Linked DNA regions of Homo sapiens: region 2 is linked to region 1. Evidence: fine-mapped expression QTL. Tissue or cell type: whole blood. Region 1 holds a variant in brackets; the other region holds the start of a gene. All regions are shown on one strand. Distances are from middle to middle.

Region 1 (8,260 bases):
ATGGGTTAATATCTAGACCACACAACCCACTCCTCAAATCAATAAGGCACTAAACTAAAAGCAAGAAAATAGGGCTCCCTCTCCCTCTCCCTCTCCCCACGGTCTCCCTCTCCCTCTCTTTCCACGGTCTCCCTCTGATGTCGAGCCAAAGCTGGACGGTACTGCTGCCATCTCGGCTCACTGCAACCTCCCTTCCTGATTCTCCTGCCTCAGCCTGCCGAATGCCTGTGATTGCAGGCGCACGCCGCCATGCCTGACTGGTTTTCGTATTTTTTTGGTGGAGATGGGGTTTCGCTGTGTTGGCTAGGCTGGTCTCCAGCTCCTAACCGCGAGTGATCCACCAGCCTCGGCCTCCCGAGGTGCCGGGATTGCAGACGGAGTCTCCTTCACTCAGTGCTCAATGGTGCCCAGGCTGGAGTGCAGTGGAGTGATCTCGGCTCGCTACAACCTCCACCTCCCAGCAGCCTGCCTTGGCCTCCCAAAGTGCCGAGATTGCAGCCTCTGCCCGGCCGCCACCCCGTCTGGGAAGTGAGGAGCGTCTCTGCCCGGCCGCCCATCGTCTGGGATGTGAGGAGCCCCTCTGCCTGGCTGCCTAGTCTGGAAAGTGAGGAGGGTCTCTGCCCGGCCGCCATCCCATCTAGGAAGTGAGGAGCGCCTCTTCCCGGCCGCCATCCCATCTGGGAAGTGAGGAGCGTCTCTGCCCGGCCACCCATCGTCTGAGATGTGGGGAGCACCTCTGCCCTGCCGCCCCGTCCGGGATGTGAGGAGCGTCTCTGCCCGGCCGCCCCGTCTGAGAAGTGAGGAGACCCTCTGCCTGGCAACCGCCCCGTCTGAGAAGTGAGGAGCCCCTCCGCCCGGCAGCCGCCCGGTCTGAGAAGTGAGGAGCCCCTCCGCCCAGCAGCCACCCCGTCTGGGAAGTGAGGAGCGTCTCTGCCCGGCAGCCGCCCCGTCCGGGCGGGAGGTGGGGGGTCAGCCCCCCGCCCGGCCAGCCGCCCCGTCCGGGAGGTGAGGGGCGCCTCTGCCCCGCCGCCCCTACTGGGAAGTAAGGAGCCCCTCTGCCCGGCCACCACCCCGTCTGGGAGGTGTACCCAACAGCTCATTGAGAACGGGCCATGATGATAATGGCGGTTTTGTGGAATAGAAAGGGGGGAAAGGTGGGGAAAAGATTGAGAAATCGGATGGTTGCCGTGTCTGTGTAGAAAGAGGTAGACATGGGAGACTTTTCATTTTGTTCTGTACTAAGAAAAATTCTTCTGCCTTGGGATCCTGTAGATCTGTGACCTTACCCCCAACCCTGTGCTCTCTGAAACAGGTGCTGTATCCACTCAGGGTTGAATGGATTAAGGGCGGTGCAAGATGTGCTTTGTTAAACAGATGCTTGAAGGCAGCATGCTCTTTAAGAGTCATCACCACTCCCCAATCTCAAGTACCCAGGGACACAAACACTGCGGAAGGCCGCAGGGTCCTCTGCCTAGGAAAACCAGAGACCTTTGTTCACTTGTTTATCTGCTGACCTTCCCTCCACTATTGTCCTGTGACCCTGCCAAATCCCCCTCTGCGAGAAACACCCAAGAATGATCAATAAAAAAAAAAGAAAAAGAAAAAAAGAAAATAGGTAAAAAACATGATTAAGCACTCACTGATGAGTAGCTTCTGACTTTCATTCTGAGTTTGCTGAACCCAGATGCCATTCCTGGGAAGGAAAAAAATAAACATGGTAAGCAATCACAGAAGGGGAAATCTGAATACCAACAGTATAAATTAATCCTCTACCTTGAACGCAATCAGAAAAATGCACATTAAAATAATAATGAGATACCACTTTACACCCATCAGGTAGGCAAAAATTAGTCCGGTAATACCAAATATTAGCAAGATCCAAGATGAGAGGAAACAAATCCCTGCTGTACTCCTGGAGTGTGAGACATGCAGCCGTTTCCATTTTTGTAGTAAAGAATCTGGCAGAGCTTTGTGAAATTAAATATGCACATGCTCTATGACCCAGCAATTCTACTCTGTCGACCAAAAGAGTGGAACTCTGTAAAATATTTGAAGAGATTTATTCTGACTCAAAGATGACTGACCATGGCCTGTGACACAACCCTCAGGAAGTCCTGAGAACCTGTGCACAAAGTGGTTGGAGTGCAGCTTGGTTTTATACACTTTAGAGAAGAATGACACATCAATTAAATACATTTAAGACATACATTGGTTTGGTCTAGAAAGGTGGAACAACTCAAAGTGGGGGCTTCGAGGCTATAGGTGAATTTAAATGTTTTCTGGTTGACAATTGGTTAAGGTTGTCTAAAGAGCTGGGATAGATAGAAAGGGAATGTTCAGGTTAAGATAAAGATTGTGGAGACCAAAGCTCTTTTGAAGTCTCATAATGGCTGCCTTGGAGACAATAGGTGACAAATGTTTCCTATTCAGATCTCAGTTAGTCTCTTTAGGATTGGGAGGATCTGGAAGAAAAAGATGTATATATATATACACATATATATATTTATATATATGTATATGTATATGTATTTTTATATATATGTATTTATGTATAAATATATATATATATATATATTTTTTTTTTGAGATGGAGCCTCGCTCTGTCTCCCAAGCTGGAGTGCAATGGCGCGATCTCCACTCACTGCAGCCTCCAACTCTTGGGTTCAAGTGATTTTCCTGCCTCAGCCTCCCAAAGTGCTGGGATTACAAGCATGAGACACCGCCCCCAGCCCTGGCTATGTTAATAGAGATTCTTTATGGATGTAGATTTTCCCCACAAAGAACAGCTTTGCAGGGGCATTTTAAAATATGACAAAGAAACATGTTTTGGGGTAAAATATTTTGATTTTCTTCTTTGTCTCGTAATGTTATACCAGAGTCAGGTTGGAAAGTAAATCATGATATATAGGGTTAAATAAAACCTATCTGATGAGAATTTATGATTTGTAGGTCATGACTCCCCAGATCCCTTAGATAGGAATTTGGGCAAGATAAAAAAAATTAGAGTTTAGTCCTCAACTCCTTCATATACGTTACAGAGAAACTTGTGTCTAGATTCATAAGGGGTCACATGCAAGAATATTTATCACAGCATTATTTGTGGAAGCTCAATGTTAGAACTCAGTTTTGGGTGACTTTCATTAGCAAAGTAGAAAGGTTAAATATAAGCCTGGTGCAGTGGCTCACGCCTGTAATCCCAGCACTTTGGGAGGCTAAGGAGAGCAGATCACCTGAGGTCCGGAGTTCGAGACCAGCCTGGTCAACACGGTGAAACCCTGTCCCTACTAAAAATACAAAAATTAGCTGGGCATGGTGGCAGGCGCCTGTAGTCCCAGCTACTTGGGAGGCTGAGGCAAGAGAATCGCTAGAACCTGGGAGATGGAGGTTGCAGTGAGCTGAGATCACGCCATTGCACTCCAGCCTGGGCAACAGAGCGAGACTCCATCTCAAAAAAAAAGAAAGAAAGAAAGAAAAAGAAAGGTTAAATATGGGAGTTGCATAGTATAGAATGCTACTCAGCAGATATACAAAATATTCAAAAGACAACATGGAGAGATCTTAAAAATAGTAATGAGTGAAAAAACAAAACCATATTGTTTGCACAGTAACACTCATGTCAATTTAAAACTACACCAAGGAACGTGCGCGGGGTTCATGCCTGTAATCCCAGCACTTTGGGAGGCCGAGGCAGCAGATCACCTGAGGTCCGGAGTTTGAGACCAGCCTGGCCAACATGGTGAAACCCTATCTCTACTAAAAATACAAAATTACCTGGGCATGGTGGCAGGCACCTGTAATCCTAGCTACTTGGGAGGCTGAGGCAGGAGAATCGCTTGAACCTTGAAGGAAGAGGTTGCGGTGAGCCGAGATCACACCATTGCACTCCAGCCTGGACAACACAGCGAGACTGTCTCAAAAAAAATAAAAATAAAAATAAGATACATTAAAATAAATAAATAAATAAAAACTACACCAAGGAACTTCTGGCTATAGCAGTGTAAAGGGATCTGTGAATCTTCACCAAAAAAACTATGAAATTAAATAAAATTGCCCCAAACAATGATTTCAAGTCTCTGGAAACTGAGCAAGGCAGAAAACAAATTGAGGAGCTTTTATTCTTGAAAAACTGCTACAGCTTCAAGCAAAAGCAATGTGAGTTTGCAGCCTTCTTGCCTGAGGCTGCTCCCATCCAACTTCCTTGGTGGCTGGGAACTGTAGTTTTACCAGTATGGAACTGGCTGTGAAAATCAGCAATGTTTGCTGTCACAGTGGGTAGACTGAAATTGTAGGAGTTAGTTAGGTGGAGGCGGACAAAAGCCTACAATGTTCTCAGCTGAATGATATGAAGTTGGTAGGAAATAAACAGGCAAAAAACCCTCTAGCTGTACTAACTCAAAGTAGCACTCCTAGTTGTGTTCAGTGGTGGAAAAGCCAGAAATTTAGCTGGAAAATAGGAAACTACAAAAGGGCTGAGATAAGCTCTCCCACATCCCT[G/A]GCTCACTGGGAAACTATCATATGCATGGAGGATAGCTCAGAGAGCTCCCTGAAAAATAAAAGACAAGGAAGACTTGAACACTGCTGCACATTTTAATACACTTCTCATCCTTCAAACAGATATATTGGCAGAAGTGGATGCTATATGGGCTTGAGGTGTTGGAACACAATGCTTATTCTAATCATTGGCTGAACACTGTGCTATGTAAGCATAGGGGTGATACTGCTGCGGGATAATTAAGGAATCAGAGAGACCGAGGGATTGAGGAGGAGTTATTTAATTATTTAGGTTCACTGACCCAGTTGGATTAACATCCAAAGGACTGAGCCTGGAACAAAGAGTCAAGCTACCTTTTAAGCATTTCGTGGGGTGGGGGGAGATCTGTGCGGGGGGAAGCGTATTATAGAAGCGAGAGACAAAGACAGTTATTCAGTTAAGGCATGCATTACATTATTTCTTACTGTTCAAGGAACAACATGTTTTACGACTTGAGATTATCTGTCTAGTGACCTTGCAGCTGCACAGCTAGAGAAACAGAGTCTTCACAATGCCTGGTAAATGGAGAGATAAGGCTCACTAGCCACAGAGAGAAAAACAGGCAGTTAATTTTAAAGGACTCCAGCCCTTTCTGTTCCTCAAGGGGGAATTGGGTTTTCTTACATACAACTGAGTTTTTGCTTACACAGTCTTTAATTTTTTTTTTTTTTTTGAGACAGAGTCTCACTCTGTTGCCCAAGCTGGAGGGCAGTGGCGCCATCTTGGCTCACTGCAAGCCCCGCTTCCCAGGTTCACGCCATTCTCCTGCCTCAGCCTCCCGAGTAGCTGGGACTACAGGTGCCCGCCACCATGCCTGGCTAATTTTTTTGTATTTTTAGTAGAGATGGAGTTTCACCGTGTTAGCCAGGCTGGTCTCAAACTCCTGACCTTGTGATCCACCCACCTCAGCCTCCCAAAGTGCTGAGATTACAGGCATGAGCCACTGCGACCGGCCTACAGTCTTTAATTTCTTTTAATTCCTGTTCTAATCCTTGAGGGAACATTTTTTTTTTTTTGAGACGGAGTCTAACTCTGTCGCCCAGGCTGGAGTGCAATGGCTCGATCTTGGCTCACTGAAACCTCCACTTCCCAGGATCAAGCAATTCTCCTACCTCAGCTTCCCGAGTAGCTGAGAGTATAGCTGGGTGCCACCATGCCCGGCTAAATTTTGTATTTTTAGTAGAGATGGGGTATCGCCATGTTTGCCAGGATGGCCTCAAACTCCTGACCTCAGGTGATCCATCCACCTTAGCCTCCCAAAGTGCTGGGATTACAGACATGAGCCACTGCACCTGGCTGGAAAAATTTATTATTATTATTATTTGAGATAGGGGTCTCACTCTGTCACCCTGGCTGAAGTATAGTGGCATGATCTCGGTTCACTGCAACCTCTGCCTCCCAGTCGCAAGCAATCTTCCTACTTCAGCTCATGAGTAGCTGGGACCACAGGTACATGCCACCACTACCTGCTAAGTTTTTGTATTTTTAGTAGAGATGGGGTCTTGGTATGTTGCCCAGGCTGGTCTCAAACTCCTGAGCTCAAGCCGCTTTGGCCTCCCAAAAGTGCTGGGATTAAAGGTGAGCCACCATGCCTGACCCCTGTGGGAAAATTTTAAAAACAAGAATAAATGGCCGGGCATGGTGGCTCATGCCTGTAATCCCAGCACTTTCGGAGGCCGAGGTGGGAAGATCACCTGAGGTCAGGAGTTGAAGACCAGCCTGACCAACATGGAGAAACCCTGTCTCTACTAAAAATACAGAATTAGCCAGGCATAGTAGTGCATGCCTGTAATCCCAGCTACTCACTACTCAGGAGGCTGAGGCAGGAGAATCACTTGACCCCTGGAGGCAGAGGTTGCAGTGAGCCAAGATCATGCCATTGCACTCCAGCCTGGACAACAAAAGCAAAACTCCATCTCAAACAAAACAAAACAAAACAAAACAAAACAAAACAAAACAAACAAACAAACAAAAAAAACGAGAATAAAAACTGAGCAGACACATTAGCAGCTGCACACTGTGGAATGATAGACTCTACAGTTTAACTCCAGACAAATGACACACACACACACATCAGCATCACCAGCATCACCACCATTCAGAAAAATACAATAGAATCCAGACTCTACGGTTTAACTCCAAATTACACACACACACACACACACACACACACACACCCCATCAGCATCACCAGCATCACCACCTTTCGGAAAAATACAACAGAATCCAGAGTTATTACAGTCTATTATCTAAAATGACCAGTTTTTTAGAGGAGGAAGAGGATAAAATGATCAGTTTTCAAGAAAAAAATTATGACACATGCGAAGAAACCTAAAAAACAGTAACTCATATCCTGATTTTAAAAGTCAATGAAAACTAGCCGGGTGCAGTGGCTCACGCCTGTAATCCCAGCACTTTGAGAGGCCGAGGCGGGTGGATCACCTGAGGTCAGGTGTTTGAGACCAGCCTGGCCAACATGATGAAACCCTGTCACTACTAAAAATACAAAAATTAGTCAGGCATGGTGGTGGGCGCCTATAATCCTAGCTACTGGGGAGGCTGAGGCAGGAGAATTGCTTGAACCTGGGAGGCGGAGGTTGCAGTGAGCTGAGATCATTCCACTGCACTCCAGCCTGGGTGACAGAGCAACACTCTGTCTCCAAAAAAAAAAACAATAAAAAACAAAATAAAAACTGAGTCCAGGCACAGTAGCTCACACCTGTAATCCCAGCACTTTGGGAGGCCGAGGCTGGCAGATCACGAGCTCAGGAGATCAAGACCATCCTGGCTAACAAAAAAATTAGCCGGGCATTGTGGCGGGCGCCTGTAGTCCCAGCTACTTGGGAGGCTGAGGCAGGAGAATGGTGTGAACCTGGGAAGCGGGGCTTGCAGTGAGCCGAGATGGCACCACTGCACTCCAGCCTGGGTGATAGAGTGAGACTCTGTCTCAAAAAAAAAAAAAATAAATAAAAATAAAAACTGACTCTGAGTAGGCCCAGAAGTTGAATTTGGCAGACAAAGACTTTAAAGCACATATTATAAATATGTTCAAGGAATTAAATAAAAATGTTTAACAATGACTCAATAAATATGGAATCTCAACAGAGAAATAGAAGCTATAAAAAAAGAATCAAACAGAAATTCTAGAATTATAAAGTAAAATAACTGAAATGAAAATTTTACTAAATGAACCCAATAGCAGATTTAAGATAGCAGAGGAAAAATTTAATAAACTTGAAGATAGATCAATAATAATAATCTAGTCTGAATGACAGAGACAAAAATGATTGCAGGAAAGTGAACAGCTGGGTACAGTGGCTCACACCTGTAATCCCAGCACTTTGAGAGGCTGAGGCAGATGGATTGCTTGAGCCCAGGAGTTTAAGACCAGCCTGGGCAACATGATGAAACCCTATCTCAACAAAACATACAAAAGTAAGCTGGATATGGTGGTGTGCCCCTATAGTCCCAACTACTTGGGAGGCTGAGGCAGAAGAATCGCTTGAGCCTGGGTGGTCAAGGCTGCAGTGACCATGTTCATGTCACTGCACTCCAGCCTGGGTGACAAAGCAAGACTGTCTCAAAAAAAGAAACAAAAAAACCAAAAAACAAAAACAAAAAAACACCGAAAACAAAAAGACTCAGAGGCCAGTGGTACATCAAGCATGCCGATATACATGTAATACATGTCCAAAGGAGAGGAGACAAAGGGTCAGAAAAAAGTAGTTG
Region 2 (8,000 bases), 30 kb after region 1:
CATAGGACTTTAACAGGTGCACTTAAATGCAGGTTTCTGATAACTTTGGAGATTGTGACATTAGAATAGAGGAAACAACTTTCAGAACTCTCATGGGGAGCTGAAATGTTCATAGATATCAAACAAAAGTTAACTGCATAAACTAAAGAAGACTAAAGCAATCTTTTTGCCTTTGCTTAAAACATTGCTGATCCTTTGTTTTATTTTTTAGAGTCAAGGCAACTTTTCTTTTCAGATATTTACAGCTTTTAATAATCGAGTAAAGTATACTCCTGTGAACAAAATTTGGAGTATATGCATCTCTCTACTTGATTTCTCCAGAATTTGGAAATTATTTGTGTGTATTCTTAATTTATGGCAATGCAGTTATTTGCATAAGGGTAATAAGAATCTGTTTTCTTTTGCAACAGGACACAATTGGAGAAATTGTTTATTTTATGAAGGGTTTGACTGGAATGGTGTGCTTTCCATTAAGGAATCAAACTTGACTTGTAAAGCCTATAAAAGCCACTTAGCGACCTGGGCTCATAACCTTGCCTACACAGTCCCTGTACAGGGTTTCTGACCTGTGGTAAGTAAAGAATGTCACCTTCTAAAAGGTCCAGGAGCCCCAAGTTATCTGGGGACCTCAAAAGGAGAGGAAGAATTTACCCAACTCAAAGGTATTTGAGGGCACAAACCCATGGCAGGGCTCAGCTTTAAAAAGTCTTATCCAAGATTCTTTCTATGGAACAGAGTTCCATCAAAGCCAATTTTAAAAGCCTACGTGAAAAATAATTATTCTTGCTGCACTTTATACAATCATCAGGCCAAGTATAATAAAGCACATTGGTCTTACCATAAAAATGGTCTTTCATAAAAATGGGAAACTGGAGAGAGAAAAATTATGTTTCAAGAACTATGATACACTTGTTATTAAATTCCAGTCTCATCAGTTGTCTTTAAGTTTGTTTCTGCAATTTAGGCTAACCCTGCTTAGTCCTGTGAACCAACCAGTGGCCTCTGACTGCTGCTCAGAAGAAACAAGAGGGATGGGTAATGTAAAAATCTGCATCAATATTCTAATTCTGGGCATGTACTGGAATCATCTAGCAACCTCATATCAGCGTGGTTCCAACAGTTCCTCAGTTCATGGAAAGCCTTCTAGTTTAGTTTACTTGGGATAATTTTACTTATTTTGCTTTATGGTTGTGGAATGTATAGCTGTTGTAATCTTTGTATAGGAATGGAGGACAAGCTTACTGAATGTTTCCTTAAACTGAACACTTATGAATCTTCCAGAGTATCACCTTTTGTCAGAACTCATGAGTTATGAATGGCCCTCAAGATACCAATGCTTTTTCTTCCCTTCCCTTCCCTTCCCTTCTTTTCTTTTCTTTCAGATGGAGTTTCATTCTTTCAGGCTGGAGTGCAATGGCACAGTCTTGGCTCACTGCAACCTCCGCCTCCCAGGTTCAAGAGATTCTCCTGCCTCAGCCTCCTGAGTAGCTAGGGTTACAGGCACCCGCCACCACATCTGGCTATTTTTTTTGTATTTTTTAGTAGAGACAGTGTTGCACCATGTTGGCCAGGCTGGTCTGAACTCCTGACCTCAGGTGATCCGCCTGCCTCAGCCTCCCAAAGTGTTGGGATTACAGGCATGAGCCATCCCGCCTGGCCCATACCAACACTTTCCAACTGAGCTCCTCTCTACCACGAATATGAGAGATTCTAAGAGTTAGGCAAAAATATCATCGCCCCTATTCATCCTGAAGAACTTACAGAAGATGGACCTTCGTCCCTCTGCAACCCTTAGGATTAGTGCTTCTCTTATAAAAGGAAGGGGGGAAATGTCAGAGGCACGTGAACCAGAGCAAGTCTATTTTGAACAAGAGCTGAGTAAAATGAGAATGAGACTTACTGGGCTGCATTCCCAGATGGTTAAAGCATTCTAAGTTACAGAATGAGATAGGAGGTTGCCATAAGATACAGGTCATGGCCGGGCATGGTGGCTCATGCCATGACAGTTTATAAATGCCATGACAATGACAGGAAGTTACCCTATATGGTCTAAAAAGGGGAGGCATGAATAATCCACCTCTTGTTTAGCATATCATCAAGAAACAACCATAAACATGGGCAACCAGCAGCCCTCGGGGCTGCTCTGTCTATGGAGTAGCCATTGTTTTATTCCTTTACTTTCCTAATAAACTTGCTTTCACTTTACTCTATGGACTCGCCCTGAATTCTTTTTTTCTTTTTTTTGAGGCGGAGTCTCGTTCTGTCACCCAGGCTGGAGTGCAGTGGTGCGATCTCGGCTCACTGCAACCTCCACCTCCCGGGTTCATGCCATTCTCCTGCCTCAGCCTCCCAAGTAGCTGGGACTACAGGCGCCCACCACCATGCCCGGCTAATTTTTTTGTATTTTTAATGGAGACGGGGTTTCACCATGTTAGCCAGGATGGTCTCAATCTCCTGACTTTGTGATCCCGCCTTGGCCTCCCAAAGTGCTAGGATTACAGGCATGAGCCGCCGCACTCAGCCTGAATTATTTCTAGTGTGAGATCCAAGAACCCTCTCTTGGGATCTGGATTCAGACCCCTTTCCTGTAACAAGATTAGGCACCAGGAGAAACTGACACACATGGATGATATAACAGATGCCTAAATGGATCCTATGGGGGAACTGGAGCTGGAACAGCCCTTTAGAGTTGTCGCAAAGTGAGGCAAAGAGGCTAGACTTTTATATCCCTCCATCAATCAGTGTTTGACATGGGCCCCATAGGAGGGCATGTAACCTTCGGTGAGGCATCTTTCTGACTTGAAGGGCATTGCCCAATGAGGGAGGTAGCTATGTGGTATCAGCAGCTGGTATTTCCTACATGTAGCGAATGGGCATATTGGCTCCCAAGGGGGAATCTGGGTGGAGCACTATAGTATCCATTAAACCTAGTAAAGAAATATTATTTCTTTACTAGTCACACAGATGTGCCCAGGACAGTGGTAGAGCCCACAGGGTTACATAAATCATAATGGTAGCCCTCAAGAACTTCATAAACTGTATATGGTATTTTAAAAAGTTGCATATTGTCTGTTTCCACCTACTAGAACATAAGCTCTAGGAGGGCAGAGACTATGTTTTGTTCACCACTGTTTCTCCAGTGTCTAGACGTAGATTCTTTGAATGCATTTAATTGGAGCCTTGAGATATGAAGAAGTAGGATGCGGTTACTTCATGCAGAGCAAGAGTGGCATGCACCCAGAGAAGGCCAGGTGGAGCTCAGCATGAGTGTGAAGGCCTCATGTCAAGCCATGTCAGGGGACACAAAGATGGAGTATTCTCTAACCTATGTGACACTCGGCATAAGGGAAGTACAAGCACTCAATATGTGAGTTTCATTCCCACAGTCTGTGGTCTTTAGCCCAGTCTTTCCAGATGCCTATTGAGTTCTTCAAGCATCCAAATGGTTTGGGGTAAGGCTTCAGGTTCTAAATGAGAGGCTTTGTGGGTTACCAGCTGGAGAGTCAGAAAATCTGGATTTGAATTCACTCAGCCATGAAATAATTGTGTGATCTTGGGCCGGGCACGGTGGCTCACGCTTGTAATCCCAGCACTTTGGGAGGCCAAGGAAGGTGAATCACTAGAGGTCAGGAGTTTGAGACCAGCCTGGCCAACATGGTGAAACCCCGTCTTTTTTTTTTTTTTTTTTTTTGAGACAAAGTCTCGCTCTGTTGCCAGGCTGGAGTGCAGTGGCACAATCTCGGCTCACTGCAACCTCCGCCTCCCTGGTTCAAGTGATTCCCCTGCCTCAGCCTCCCGAGTAGCTGGGACTACAGGCGTGCACCACCACGCTAATTTTTTTGTATTTTAGTAGAGATGGAGTTTCACCATGTTGGCCAGGATAGTCTTGATCTCCTGACCTCGTGATCTGCCTGCCTCGGCCTCCCGAGAAACCAAGTCTTTACTAAAAAATATCAAAATTAGCCAGGTGTGATGGACCTGTAGTCCCATCTACTTGGGAGGCTGAGGCAGGAGAATTGCTTGAACCTGGGAGGTGGAGGTTGCAGTAAGCTGAGATGGTGCCACTGCACTCCAGCCTGGGGGACAGAGCAAGACTCTCTCTCAGAAAAAAAAAAAAAAAAAGTTTGATCTTGGGGAGTTCTAAGGCCCACTAGCCTCATCTGTAGAATGGAAGCAATAGTACTACTTTGCAGAGCTGACTTCAGGACCAAGAGATCTAATGTCTATGAAGCGGGGTACTTCCTTCTATTTGTCAGGATGGGGGAGGCTAGTCCTGTGATGACTGGGAATGAAGGGTAAAAGAGACAGAGGTTGGGTAAACTCCAGGCTCTGTGTTCATAGCCTGCTCCCAGACATTCTCTTGTTATCTCTCTGTTTCCTAGCCTACACACGTGCACAGACACGTAGCTGCTGTTCAGGAACTGAGCTAATGGTTTTAAAGTCTGTTCCTTATCTTTGCTGGAGGCAGGCAGTAGCTGTGCAGTGACAGTGTGCCTATGCAGACAGAGGGAGCAGTGAATAGCAATAGGGTGTTTCCACCATGGTCTTCACTCAGGCCCCGGCTGAAATCATGGGCCACCTCCGGATACGCAGCCTCCTGGCCCGGCAGTGCCTGGCAGAGTTTCTGGGTGTGTTTGTACTCATGGTAGGTAGGATCACTGCGGGAAGGAAAGAAGGGGGTTGGGCAAAAGTTCCTGGCTCCTTCTGTTGTCCTTATCTCTTTCTCTTGGTGTCCCCCTTCCTCTCAACTCCCTATCACTTTTCGTTTTTATCCTCTCGTCTCTCCTAATCTCCTTTCCTCTCCTACTTCATCATTTTTATTCTTGTCATTTTTATTCTTTCTTTAATAACAAGTGTATCATAGTTCTTGAAACATAATTTTTCTCTCTTCAGTTTCCCATTTTTATGAAAGACCATTTTCATGGTAAGACCAATGTGCTTTATTATACTTGGCCTGATGATTGTATAAAGTGCAGCAAGAATAATTATTTTTCACATAGGCTTTTAAAATTGGCTTTGATGGAACTCTTCCATAGAAAGAATCTTAGATAAGACTTTTTAAAGCTGAGCCCTGCCATGGGTTTGTACCCTCAAATGCCTATGAGTTGGGTAAATTCTTTTCTTTTTTCCCACATTCTTTCCCTTTCTTCTTCCTCCACTTTCCCCATTTCTTTTCCCTTCCCTCCTTCTGCTTTTCTCCTTCCCTTGCTTGTCTTCTGTGCTCATTCATCTCCTTGGCTGCTCCCCTGGCCTTCCCAACCTTTCTCCCTGTTGGTCTCCTGGGCTCCCTGTTCCTCATCTCTCCTCTTCTCAGCAGCTCCTCACCCAAGGAGCTGTGGCCCAGGCTGTCACCAGTGGAGAAACCAAAGGCAACTTCTTCACCATGTTTCTGGCTGGCTCTCTGGCCGTTACGATAGCCATCTACGTGGGTGGTAACGTCTCAGGTGAGGAGGGTGGGGTCTGGTCATCAGAGCACGTGGGATGTGCATGCCAGTTTGTCTGTCTGGTGATGGTGGAAACGCAAATCCTTCTGTGACTCGTGGACATTATCCCCTTGAACAGTGTCCCAGACTGAAATAAGCCTTTGGCCCCACCAGCCCCTCCTCTTTCTGTATCTCTCCATCCTGCTTCCTCACACTAATGCTTGGCTCACCTAGACAGAAATCAATGGCAGGGCACGAAGGGCAGCTGCTATCCTCTTGTATCCCCCACCTGAAGTCCTCTGGGGGCTCATCTCCACTCAGGACCTCTCCTGTTTGTACCCCAGATACACACTGCATCGGTGTGCTTGGGTGGAGCCTTGAGACATAGTGTGTTGCTGTGGAAAAAGCAGACAGACCTAGGTTCCAACTTTGGATTCACAGTGTCTTCTTCTTTTTTTTTTTTTTTTTTCTTTTTTTTTGAGATGGAGTTTCACTCTGTTGCCCAGGCTGGAGAGCAGTGGTGTGATGTCTGTTCACTGCAACCTCTGCCCCTGGGTTCACGCGATTCTCCTGCCTCAGCATCCCGAATAGCTGATTTTACAGGCACCTGCTACCACGCCTGGCTAATATTTGTGTTTTTAGTGGAAACGGGGTTTCACCATGTTGGCCAGGCTGGTCTGGAATTCCTGACCTCAAGTGATCCACTGCCTCGGCCTCCCAAAGTGCTGGGATTACAGGCGTGAGCCACTGTGCCTGGCCCACAGTGTGACTTTGCTAAGTCACTTAACATCTGTAACATCTGGAGCCTCAATTTCCTAAGCTGTGTGATGAGAATTACACTATCTGCCTTAAGAGCTATAGGAAGGAGCAGTAGTGTTGTCTGGTGACAATGCCTGGCAGTGACACTTAATAGATGCTCTTTTTCTTTCCTTGATACTTGAAGGGGCCCACCTGAATCCAGCCTTCTCCCTGGCCATGTGCATCGTTGGACGCCTCCCCTGGGTCAAGCTCCCCATTTACATCTTGGTGCAGTTGCTGTCTGCTTTCTGTGCTTCGGGAGCCACCTATGTTCTCTACCATGGTGACAGAGGGAACAGAGGGAGCTGTGCCTTGAGAGCACCTGTGGGTGGGCAGGGGTGCCTCAGAATGGTTTTGGATGAATGAGCAAAGAGGGAAATCCTGGGTGTTCCCTTCCTCCACAGATGCCCTACAGAACTATACAGGTGGGAACCTGACAGTGACTGGCCCCAAGGAGACAGCCTCCATTTTTGCCACCTATCCTGCCCCCTATCTGTCCCTGAACAATGGCTTCCTGGATCAGGTAAGTGTGAGGGGGAGACCTGGGGACACTACTTTGGTCCTGTTCCTCGGCACCCCAGCCTATTGTTCAGTCTCTGGGTGGAGTGTGGGTTGGGTCTATCTTGGCACTCCCCACCATCCCCAACTGCCTGTGTTGCACAAAGCCAGATGACATGGAATATTTGGATGAGAGAGGGCAGATGGAGCACCTGGCAGCTGACAGGGAACCCTCTGCCTCTGTTGACTCCAAGGTTCTGGGCACTGGGATGCTGATTGTGGGGCTCTTGGCCATCCTGGACAGACGGAACAAGGGAGTCCCTGCGGGTCTGGAGCCTGTGGTGGTGGGGATGCTGATCCTGGCCCTCGGGTTATCCATGGGTGCCAACTGCGGGATTCCACTCAACCCTGCCCGGGACCTGGGCCCACGTCTCTTCACCTACGTGGCTGGCTGGGGTCCTGAAGTCTTCAGGTGGGAGACAGACTCTCCTGGTGCTGGCCTCCACTCACCTTCCTCTGCTAAGGGCTCTGTCCCTGGGTCCACAGCACTCTGCCTTTAAAATAGCTCTCTTGGCTTCTTAGGACAGTGTTCTTTCTCCAAGTCATATTCTCCCCCTTTCTCCCTTGCTTCCCTCCCAACTTTTCACTGAAACAGTAAGATTTAGAGGTTGTGTTCTTAGGCATGCCACATTACTTCCATGCACATTAGTGACTTCATCAGCAAAATTAATATATTCAGATAATTCCCTAAGGCAAGAGGCTGGACCAAGCTCTCCTGGGGTTCCCTCTTCTAAATACTATGCTTTGGTGACAAGGCAATCCTCTTCCTGGTGTCTACCACCCTGGGAACAACTTTAGGGCACTCTCTTGTTACTGCCCCCCGTCCTTGGAGAGGGGAAGGCTAAGGGAGTCACTCCTGATACCTTCCCACTGTCCTTCTTTTGCAGTGCTGGTAATGGCTGGTGGTGGGTGCCTGTGGTGGCCCCTCTGGTGGGGGCCACCGTTGGCACAGCCACTTACCAGCTGTTGGTGGCTCTGCACCACCCTGAGGGCCCAGAGCCAGCTCAGGATCTGGTGTCTGCTCAACACAAAGCCTCAGAGTTGGAAACTCCTGCCTCAGCTCAGATGCTGGAGTGTAAGCTATGATTAGGACAACCCTCACTTCACTCATGGACCCTGGAGCCAGCCACTGACCCCGCCTGGGAACAACAGTCATTCTTCCTCTTTGTTAATGTGCCAGAACCTGGGAGGCTTCTCTGTTTATCTGTTTGGCATCCCTTC

Evidence for each region. PIP is the estimated chance that this variant, and not a neighbour inherited with it, causes the effect.
Region 2: it holds the start of AQP10, and the variant in region 1 is fine-mapped to the expression of AQP10 in whole blood (TOPMed, PIP 0.98).

What each region holds. Positions count from the first base shown.
Region 1 is chr1:154,286,826-154,295,085 of GRCh38, forward strand. LOC124904806 (small nucleolar RNA SNORD59) reads left to right here and starts at 1,635; the gene lies at 1,635-1,702. The variant G/A (reference allele first, on the strand shown) is at 4,495.
Region 2 is chr1:154,316,616-154,324,615 of GRCh38, forward strand. AQP10 (aquaporin 10) reads left to right here and starts at 4,478. Exons shown (of 6, transcript NM_080429.3): 1 at 4,478-4,645; 2 at 5,318-5,444; 3 at 6,367-6,504; 4 at 6,626-6,744; 5 at 6,974-7,191; 6 at 7,667-8,000. The coding sequence starts at 4,541. The coding sequence ends at 7,865. RefSeq lists a silencer at 4,257-4,448 and an enhancer at 7,871-7,950.